Homo sapiens: one gene and its partners. The protein of the gene in region 2 purifies or fractionates together with the protein of the main gene of each other region. This does not show direct contact. Each region holds a gene or a part of one and is shown on either strand. Other genes may lie near its edges. The genes, in order: ATP8A1, TMEM230 and ATP11B.

Region 1 (3,655 bases), on a different chromosome or scaffold from region 2:
TGGCCCTTTCTCATTTCTCATATCTGTTTATTTCACTGACAGAAACAAGTTTTACAACTATTTGCAGAACTGCTGGAGTTTTAGATTAATTAGTTTTCTTGCCTTCATGTAGCTAATTTCCAATGACAATAAAATATGTCCAATAATACCAGTTAACCTCCCTAGACTTTAAAATATATATGTGGAAGATTACTACAAATGTTAACATTTCTAAATATTTTTTCTTCGGTTTTTGCCTAAATGTTTGCATAATTCATTTACACAATGAGTTCATTTTGCAGAGGATCCTTTTTTTGTATATGATATTGTTTCATTTCAGGGTCTTAGAAAAATTGGCAAAATACAGAACTAACATAACACAGCAATTTAACTAAAGCTTTTATAGTGGGAAAAACACAAGATGGAAATTTTTCAGCTGAATCAGTTCCAGTTATTAAAATTGCATAAACATTTGCTGCAACACATATGGATTACTTATTTGTTTCTCATGCCTATTATGTTCTTTAATATCAAAACAATTTTATAAAACAATGAAGAAATGGCATGATTTGGAAGATGGATGATGTCTATAAGTACATTTCAGAATTATTACTCAACTTCACGTATTCAACAAATATTTGAGTTTCTACTGTGTGAGACACTTTTATGGGAAGTTGGGGGAGAAGATGCCTTATTTTTTACAATGTGCTTTTAGAAGTTACATAATTATCTGGATTTGTATCTGAGGAGACAACTATTCTAAACACTTCCTGAAAAATACTTTCCTTGTTATTTCACCTACCATAATTATTTTTCTGAAAATAGTTTATTTTAAAATAAAATTAAGGAACACATGTCATACCATATTAGTGGTAGTGAACTTCTAGTTAAAAAGTCTATGAAATGTCTTCTTTGTGTAATGTTAGTTAATATTTACTTTAATATTTTTAACTAAAAAATAGTTTATACCAAAACGTGCCAAATGTGAAAAAAATAGTAATAACTAATTTTTTATTCTAAAAATTGCCATGCTTAGAATATATGTAGTCAGTTTTTAAAAGTGAATAACACTACTGTTGTTTTGTATTTTTTTATTTTAATTGTGTTATACTGGCTCTGTGTTGCCATTTGACTTAAATATAACTGAGTGGGGGGTGGTGAGGAGATCCTACTTTTTACTGGGAGAAGGATTATTGGGGACCAAACTCCTTAGGGAGAAAATGGCCTCAAAAGTCTGTCTAAATACTTGAAATTTCATTCGCTATCTGAGAAAATGTGTAAAAAGAATCACTAGGCTACGGATTTCTCGAGCAATCTTTTGTTTAAGTCTAACTCTCTTTGGTGGTCCTGTGGGCACACTGGGGTCTCTGCCGAGTTGATAATTCATTTCACACATTTGCACCTGCTCTGCAGCCTGACCGAGAGGGCGCAACTGCTCAAGAACGTCTTTAAGAAGAACCACGTGAACTTGTACCGCTCTGAATCCTTGCAACAAAATCTGCTCCGTGAGTATTTGAGTTTCTTATTTTTAAATAAATTCTCTGCCATTGCTGTATCATAGCATTTATACAGTATCCTGACTTTAGGGATATTTATTTAAAACTAATGTCTAAAATAAGTTTTGCATATTTGTAACCTGTAAATAACAGAAAATCCATTGGTCAGAACCATTTCACTTTCAACAGAAGAGATAGTTAATTTTAAAATCTTGCTGTTTCACTTAAAGAAAAACAGTATTTCCACATTCCTTGCTTCCTCAAATCTTTTTCTTTAAAGCCAGTAAATCTTAATTCTTAAAAGCTGCCCCTGTCTTGTTATCTTTTCTACTTGAATAACTTTGCAAGAGCCTTTCAGCTTTCATACAACACAAGGAAGCATATATTTTCCCCTTCAGAAATATTTATGAATATTTAGAGTTGTAAGACATTATTAGATATTGTGCCCTCTTAACATTTCAAGATCTAAAAAAGAATATAAAATGTAAAGCCCTGTAGTAAATGTATTTGTGTGAGTAATATATCTTTTGTTTCATGTTGTTTCCACTTATAATTTATTTTCACTTACGTATACTCATGTCTAATGCTTTTGCTCTTTATACTTCAAGAGGCCTTTTCTAAAGATGTGATCCCCTTGGGGGCCATTCCTTATGCCCATGCCATGTCGGGGCGTGAGTGAGTTTATTTGTGATGCTGAGAGCCAAGGGGAATGTCCTCTGAAGGAAGGAGACCACTTGCCACCATGAGCAGCTATTTGTGTTTATCTCCTCCTCCTCGCCTTTTTAAATTGACAAACAATAATTGTCTATATTTATGGAGTACAAGGTGATGTTTTGATGTACAGTTGGCCCTTTCTATCAGTGGGTTCCACATCTGTGGATTCAGCCCGCTGTGAGTCAAGTATATTCAAGGGGGAAAAAAAAATTCACAAAATTCCTAAAAGCAAAACTTGAACTTGCCATGGACGAAATACTACATTGAATCCACTAGAATGAACTGATGTGAGGGCATTGTATTAAGTATTATAAGTAATCTAGAAATGATTTTAAGTCTACGAGAGAATGTGTGTAGGTTATATGCAAATACTGTGCCATTTTATATAAAGGATTTAAGCATCCGTGGATTTTGATATTTAAGGGGGTCCCTGAAGCCATTCCCACAGATACCAAGGGACCGTACATGGTGGGATGGTTGAATCAATTACATTATTCACCACCTCACCTACATATCACTTTTCCTTTCCTCTCATCCACCTGACCTATGTGGAAATATGTGAGCCCACTTGACTCAACTCCCTCACCCCCTCCAGAATTGGGGAAGCAAAAATTAGAAGAGTTGGAGTTGACTTACGGGACAGAGGATTTAGGGGAATTGAGGGTGCCTACTCAGTCTTCTAGAGAGAAGAATACCTAGAATCTAAACTGGCAACCTAAGATCATCCCACTCTTTATTTTGAAGTTAAGTCTGTATCTTTTCTAGGCATTAAAAATCAGTGTCTCCATGCTTTTGAATGTGGGAAGGCTGCATTTGTTCCCCAGGCTAGAAAATGAATACCCAAAAGTCAGAATAACGGTGGTTTCCAGTGCCTTTGTGAGAATTTCTGTTTTATCATTAACCTACAGATGGGTATGCGTTCTCTCAAGATGAAAATGGAATCGTTTCACAGTCTGAAGTGATAAGAGCATATGATACCACGAAACAGAGGCCCGACGAATGGTGATGGGGAGAGCCTGAAAGGCAGGCTCTGTTACCTCTCTAAGGAGAGCTACCAGGTTGTCACCGCAGTCTGCTAACCAATTCCAGTCTGGTCCATGAAGAGGAAAGGTAGATCTGAGCTCATCTCGCTGATGGACATTCAGATTCATGTATATTATAGACATAAGCACTGTGCAACTGTACTGTAACACCATCTCTTTTGGATTTTTTTAAGGTATTTGCTAAGTCTTTGTAAACGGAAATTGAAAATGACCTGGTATCTTGCCAGAGGGCTTTCTTAAACGGAGAATAAGTCAGTATTCTTATGCCATTACTGTGGGGCTGTAACTGACTGTCAGTTTATTGGCTGTACCACAAGGTAACCAACCATTAAAAAACTCTAAATGATATTTAGTTAAAGGGACTCTTGGTATCCAGACTTAGATTTCAGGATATGCTGAAACAAACCAGCATTCTTAAGGAAC
Region 2 (3,755 bases):
GGTCACCCTCTCTTTGTCCCTCACTTCCTGAGTTTTTTTTTTTTCCTCCAACTATACTCACTCTACTGGTGATCTCAAACAGCCCTCTAGCTTTTAAGATACTGTCCAAATGCTGACTCCCAAATTTCTATTTCCATCCAAGACCCACTCTTAAACTCTAGACACACACATGCATCGCAACTGCCTCCTCAACAGCTCCACTTGGATATTGAGTAGACATCTAAAACTTGCTCTTCCCACAGCCTTGCAACTCAGCTGATGGCATGTCCAGGCTTCCAGTTGCCCAAGTCCATAACCTCAGAGTTAGGGAAAGTTGAGTGTGACCCACAATGCCAGCTACCTAGAAACTAAGGTAGATCTAGGTACTGGGATTAAAGATATCATAAAATCATTAAAATGTTTTCTGAAATGTTTGAAGTTAACTCATTTTATTTCTAGGATTTGGATTTCAACATTTTAATTTCTTTGGAATATAAGTCACTTTTTGCAAGCTAAAAAATAGAATCAAACTAAGGTGATCTAGTCCTCTAGGCATCCAGGCTGATCCTTGGAATCATGAGCAGAATGATGACATACTACAAGGTGCTAGCAATACGGCTATAAACTCTAAATAATAACCACTACATGTTTCATTAGGAAACAGCCAAAAGTCCGGCCGTTAAAGGAATAATCTGCAGAACATCTTGATTTACAAGGGACAAAATGATGCAAATTATATGCTGTCCAACCTACTGGTGAACTGGATCAGAATGGTCCAAGGACTGTTAAACAGAGGAAGTATTTACATTTTGAAAACTTGCTCTGCAGGATAAAAAAATTCCTGGTTGCTGTCAGTAAGAAAGCAAGTAAAAAAAATATTACAGATGAACTCACTGATCTTTGATTTTACTAAGGTCTTCCACTGGAACATGAAGGTAGGGATAAGTGTACAGGATAATATACTCAGATATTTTTAAAATAAATTACTTAATAATAAGAAATTAGCCATACCACATTGTTCCATTTGCTACAAGAACAAATTGGCAATGAAGACTATTTAAAAGAAATGCTCAGCTCTACAGAGGGTGGTGGCAGGCAACACTTTTCCATTACAGAATAACCTCTATTCTTCCATGATACATATTCCTGTGGAAAAACTTGTCAGGGCCCAGGGATGAAAAATAGAGCTTGTCCTAATTAGCTAACTGTAGGTTCACTTAACATCTTTGGGAAGGACCCAAAAAATCTGGCCATTATTTTCTTAAACATCTGCAAGCTGCAGAATTCCTTAGTCCTCAGCTATAGTTTCTGCTAGATATCTTAAAGCTGGGACAGTTCCACTGTGACTCCTCCTCAGCTATGGGGTGGGTGCTAGTCATCAAAGTCTGGAATGTCATCATAGGAGTAACCACGGTAGCCTTTGGATGCATAGTAAGCGATGCGCAGGTGGTAAAATCCGGGTAGGAACACCAGAATGCCAATGATCAGCACTGGAACGGCCCGGTCTGCCCCCTGGTGGCAGAAGGAGGCAAACACATTAGTACCGTAAGAGTTACACATTTTAAAATAAAACGTCACAGACCTAATCCTTAGATCAGTATTTTATACTCTTCAGTACTTTTTCTTTGAGTTGTATACCACCAAGGGAAAAGGTTTCCTCCTGATTATAAATTGAAGACAAACTACAAAATATTAACAATTATAAAGAAAAAAATGACCCATTCTCATCCAGATATTTTGGCTTCTTTTCCTTTTTTTAAAGCTCTTAGTTGTGAACACACCATACTCTGTGTCCTGTGGCCAATATTATTAAAACCTTTTCATACATTTAAACTGTAAGGATGTGTAACATTCCACCGAAATGGACATACTACAGTTTTACCTAACTGCCCCACATACAGCTGCTGGACACTTTGGTTGTTTTTCACCTTTTGTAATTGTACAGATACCACTACAATAAACTCTGTGTTTTTCTCAGCCTTTCAGGTTTTCTTTTCTTTCTCTTTTTTCTTTTTTTTTGAGGTAAGAGTCTTGCTCTGTTGCTCGGGCTGGAGTACAGTGGTGTGATTACAGCTCACTGCAACCTCGACTTCCCAGGCTCAAGTGATCCTCCCACCTCAGCCTCCAAGTAGCTGGAGTTACAGGTGTCAGTCACCATACCTGGCTCATTTTGTACATTTGTTTGTTTGGTAGAGATGAGGTCTCGCTATGTTGCCCAGGCTGGTCTCGAACTCTGGGGCTCAAGCAATCCTCCTGCCTCAGCCTCCCAAAATGCTAGAATTATAGGCTTGAGCCACTGCACCTGGCTGGCTGTGTTCCCTGTTGTGTGTTAATTATAGTCAGAATTGGTTCAAGACAACTTGGACACTGTGTATGTGGGGACAGCCCATGAGAAAGAACCACCAACTACTTTAGGTTTCTAAGGTTTCATATTGAAGCTCAACAGGAACTCCAACCAAACCTACTGTAAGAAGGAACTGACTTACGAGGCACAGTGACCCCACACATATAACAGAATTGCTATTTCTCTCCAAATACTGACAGTATGTCCATGGCACTGCACAGCTACAATGACAGCATGCTGCTCCAGCTACAGCCCTTTACCAATCAGGACTCCTGTATGCCAGGCTCAGCCATGTTGTTCCAAACTATGACAGGGCAAACTGTCTAATATCTCAGAGGCCAAGTTTGCCTACCTGCCACCACCTCCCCTATAGGAACTATGGAAGTTTACTGTTGCTCAAAGGAAGAAAAACATGTTTTGCCAACAGAGAACAAAATGTAAAAGAAAATCTTTTTGGTTTTTCTGCTGGAATCTGCTGTACCAGACATGAATATAAAAACAAAGATTGAACAATGAAAAAAATCTAAAACCTGAATAGACAAAGAGTAATGAGATTAAGGCCATAATAAAAAGTCTCTTAGCAGAGAGAAGCCTGGGACTAGATGGTTTCGCTGCTGAATTATACCAGTTAAAGAATTAATACTTGGCTGGGCATGGTGGTTCACTCCTGTAATCCCAGCACTTTGGGAGGCCAAGGCAGGCAGATCGCTTGAGCTCAGGATTTCAAGACCAGCCTGGTCAACATGGTAAAATCCTGTCTTGACAAAAAATACAAAAATTAGATGGGCATGGTGGTATATGCCTGTGGTCCCAGTTGCTAGTGAGGCTGAGGTGGCAGGATCACATAAGCCGGGGAGGCAAAGGTTGCAGTGAGCTGAGATCGCACCACTGCACTACACCTGCATGACAGATGAGACCCTGTCTCAAAAAAAAAAAAAAAAAAAAAGAATACTAATCCTACTGAAACTATTCTGAACAGACATGGAGAGAATACTTCCAAACTGATTCTACTAGGCCAGTTTTACCCTGATACCAAAACTAGGCAAAGACACATCGAAAAAACAAAAATAGGCCAATATCCCTGATGAACATTGATGCAAAAATCCTCAATAAGGAGGATAATACTAGCAAACTGAATTCAACAATACATTAAAAAGATCATTCATCAGGACCAAGTGGGATTTATCCCAGAGAGGCAAGGATGGTTCAACTTATACAAACCAATCAATGTGATAAAATCGTATCAGCAGAATGAAGGACAAAAACCATATGATTATTTCAATCGATGCTAGAAAAGCATTTGATAAAATTCTACATCCACCGGGTGTGGTGGCTCACGCCTGTAATCCCAGTACTTTGGGAGGCTAGGGTGGGCCTCACACTGACCATAATTAACACACAACGGGAAACATAGTCAGAGGGGTGCAGTGGC
Region 3 (3,655 bases), on a different chromosome or scaffold from region 2:
CAATACTCCTGCCTCAGTCTCCCAAGTAGCTGGGACTAAAGGCAGGCACCGCCATGCCCAGCTAATTTTTAATTTTTGTAGACACAGGGTCTCACTATGTTGCCCAATCTGGCCTTAAACTCCTGGCCCAAAGCAATCCTCCTGTGTGTCTCCCAAAGTGCCGAGGTTACAGGTTTGAGCCACCACACCTGGCCTAGAATGTTTTTCTTATACTAAATTTTATAACAGAGAAACTCCAGGAAAAAAAGCAAAATAAAGAATATCTGAGAATAAAATCTTTCAACTATGTTTATAAACTCAAATCTTGAGTTTCATTTTGATATTTTTTAAAAAATACACGTTTACTTCCTTTTGAGAATAAAAAAATTAAAATTAAACAATAAAAATGCACATTTCTAGTAAAAACTAAGCTAATTATGAATATTATCTTGCTTAGAATGATCAGCACTCGGGCCGGGCATGGTGGCTGACGCCTGTAATCCCAGCACTTCCGGAGGCCGAGGCGGGCGGATCATGAGGTCAGGAGATCGAGACCATCCTGGTAACACGGAGAAACCCCATCTCTACTAAAAATACAAAAAATTAGCTGGGCGTGGTGGTGGGCGCCTGTAGTCCCAGCTACTCCGGAGGCTGAGGCAGGAGAATGGTGGGAACCCAGGAGGCGAACTTGCAGTGAGCTGAGATCGCGCAACTGCACTCCGCCTGGGCGAAAGAGCGAAACTGTCTCCAAAAAAAAAAAAAAAAGAAAGAAAGAAAGATCAGCACTCAGACAACTGCAGAAACAAAATGAAGAATAAACAGCATGGCTAAATCTAGAACCCCACAGCAGTCGATGTTGACTTGATAAATTATTTCCAAGGGACCAGATGCAGTTAGTCTATCAGGCAGCTTCTAGTCTCTTAGATATAATGCAGACCAACACTCTGAAAATAGAAAACTCACAGAAAAAAAGCCTGGGTAAAGTCATAAAGTCCTTAGAATCAAAAACTTTCTTGAATCTGCCTATGCCAGGCATTATATATTGTTACCATAATCTAAAACAATGCTGTAGAACAGAAATATGGCCTAAGCCACATATGTTAATTTTCTTAGTTTCCACATTTAAAAAAAGGTAAAAATAAACAAGTAGCATTTAATATTTAACCAAATACATGTATATTTATATAACCCAATATAATTTCAACATGTAATCAATTAGAAAATGAATGAGATATTTTACATCCTTTTTCCAAACTAAGTCTTCAAGATCCACTGCATATTTCATTCACACACATCTCAATTCAGAGTAGACACACTTCAAGTGCCTACATTTCGACAGCCATATGTGGATACCATGTTGAATAGCACAGGTCTAGAAAACATTTAATGACAATAATGGTAATCATAAGGCTCTTTAGAGGATCTGGAGCAAGGTCCCTACTTCAGTGTTGCTGGGAATACCTGAGTTTCCTCTAATGCTTTATCCTCTTCCTAACCAAATGCAAAACTGCGTATCTAAGAATATATGTCTGAAAATAGAGATAAAGCAGCACATACTCACAGATCTAGGTTCTTAAACATTAATTCTTGAGGTTAAAACTTATCCACAAAAAAAATACCACCCTAGGCCAGTGCTTCCTTTTTCTATTCCTTCATTCATTCCTTGGAAAAGAGGCAGAGAATGCAGGTATTTTCAAACTGATGCTGAATTAGATCTGATACTCATTCATTTATTCAACCAACATTTGGCAGGTGAATACCTACAATGGGCCAACTGCTGTCTTGAGTGTAAGGAATATAAATACAAGTAAGATATGGTTCTTATCCTAAGATATTTACAGTCTAGTCTAGTAAGTGAGATATCTAGACTTCCACAATGTGTTCTGTAAAAACAGGAGCTCACTATTCTTTTCAGACGGTCTCACTCTGTCACCCAGGCTAGAGTGTGGTGGCATGATCATGGCTCACTGCAGCCTCAAACTACTTGGGTCAAGTGACCTTCCCACCCTAACCTTCCAAGCAGCTGAGACTACAAGTCAGTACCACAATGCCCAGCTAATTTTTTTTTCTTTCCTAGAGACAGGATCTCACTATTCTTACCAGGATACAGGAATTCACTTTTAATGTTATACAGCAGCACTAATAGAAATAGAACATGAGCAACAGATGCAAGTCACGTAGGTAACTTTAAAATTTCTAACCACTTTAAAAAAAGTAAAAAGAAACAAAATTCCAAAAATTTATTTTACTTTACCTATATATGTAAAATATTATAATATCTCAACATGTAACTAACAAAAAAATGAGAGTTCTTTTTTCTTTTTTCTTTTTTCTTTTTTGAGACAGAGTCTCCCTCTGTCACCCAGGCTAGAGTCCAGTGGCATGATCTTGGCTTACTGCAACCTTTGCCTCCCACGTTCAAGTGATTCTGCTGCTTCAGCCTCCTGAGTAGCTGGGATTACAGGTGCCCATCACCACGCCAGGCAAATTTTCGGATTTTTAGTAGAGATGAGGTTTCACCATGTTGGCCAGGCTGGTCTCGAACTCCTGACCTCAGGTGATCTGCCTGTCTCGGCCTCCCAAAGTACTGGGATTACAGGAATGAGCCACCTTGCCCGGCCAGGTTTTACATTTTTTAATACTGTTTTTGAAATCCAATGTGTATTTTATACGTAAGAATAACTCTACTCAAACTAGCCACATTCCAAATACATCAGCCAGCACAGTTTTATAGATCTGTTTTTCAGAAAATTAAAAAGAATTTGCCAGTTACAGGTACAGGAAAAAGTAGCAGAGAGGCTTGAACATGTTCACAAGTTAAGAGAAAAAGTAAAGAGAAAGAAAAGAAACATACTAATGATAACTGATGGAGTATGGACAGCAGAATGAAAGAAAAGGATCAAAAGCTTAAGTGGAATTGTTATCTTGGAAAAGAGGGTTGCATCTTCCTTGTGACTGTGAAGGGAAGAATTAAGTACCAGTATAAAATATAAGCAAGTTCGGTGAGTGTGAGGAAGAACAGAAAGTTGAGGGAGTTCAGATTAAGACCTTCTCATTTTTCTCAGTTAATCAGAAGACAATCTTAGCAGCCTCCTACCACCATCGCCAATACAATCTAAAGGGATTACATTTATGGAACAGTTTAAGAAACAGTTATCCTAGTAATACTGTTTTTGTGTAATTACTCATTTTCTAACTTTTTTCTGGGCTAGTCAATCTTAAATTTGGTCATTTTTGTCTCTAAACACAGAAACAACACTACAGATTCATTCTTTCTTTCCTCATCTATTAATTATTTGTTCAGCAACATGTATCCAATGTCTACTTATGTAGAGTATGTGTGACCCTGACCAACATTTGTATCCCTGGTATTCAGCATCTGTTAATACCAGCACACAGCAAGTGCTTTAAAAATGTAGTATTACATTCAAATATGTACTGACACAGACTTTCATTTAAAAGTCTAAATTGGTGCTGTCCAATAGAATTTTCTGTGATAATGAAAATATGAACTGTCCAATATGGCAGCCAATGGCAGCCAATAGACACATGAATTCAAATTTTAATTTTAATACCCACATATGGCTCCAATTTTAATTTTAATGGCCACTTGTGGCTAATGGCTACCGTACAGGTCTAAATATTAGAATACAGTGAGTAGCTAATGGCATTTCCA

What was found.
Region 1: the proteins of TMEM230 (region 2) and ATP8A1 purify together in Homo sapiens (affinity purification with western blotting, with the first as the bait; one study listed by BioGRID). This does not show direct contact.
Region 3: the proteins of TMEM230 (region 2) and ATP11B purify together in Homo sapiens (affinity purification with western blotting; one study listed by BioGRID). This does not show direct contact.

Annotation. Positions count from the first base shown.
Region 1 is NC_000004.12:42,412,456-42,416,110, reverse strand, and holds part of ATP8A1 (phospholipid-transporting ATPase IA), read left to right. Parts: intron 1-1,392; coding exon 1,393-1,484; intron 1,485-3,097; coding exon 3,098-3,195; 3' UTR 3,196-3,655. UniProt on the Homo sapiens protein: Catalytic component of a P4-ATPase flippase complex which catalyzes the hydrolysis of ATP coupled to the transport of aminophospholipids from the outer to the inner leaflet of various membranes and ensures the maintenance of asymmetric distribution of phospholipids.
Region 2 is NC_000020.11:5,099,441-5,103,195, forward strand, and holds the end of TMEM230 (transmembrane protein 230), read right to left. Parts: intron 1,492-3,755; coding exon 1,351-1,491; 3' UTR 410-1,350; downstream 1-409.
Region 3 is NC_000003.12:182,796,371-182,800,025, reverse strand, and holds part of ATP11B (phospholipid-transporting ATPase IF), read right to left. Parts: intron 1-3,655. UniProt on the Homo sapiens protein: Catalytic component of a P4-ATPase flippase complex which catalyzes the hydrolysis of ATP coupled to the transport of aminophospholipids, phosphatidylserines (PS) and phosphatidylethanolamines (PE), from the outer to the inner leaflet of intracellular membranes.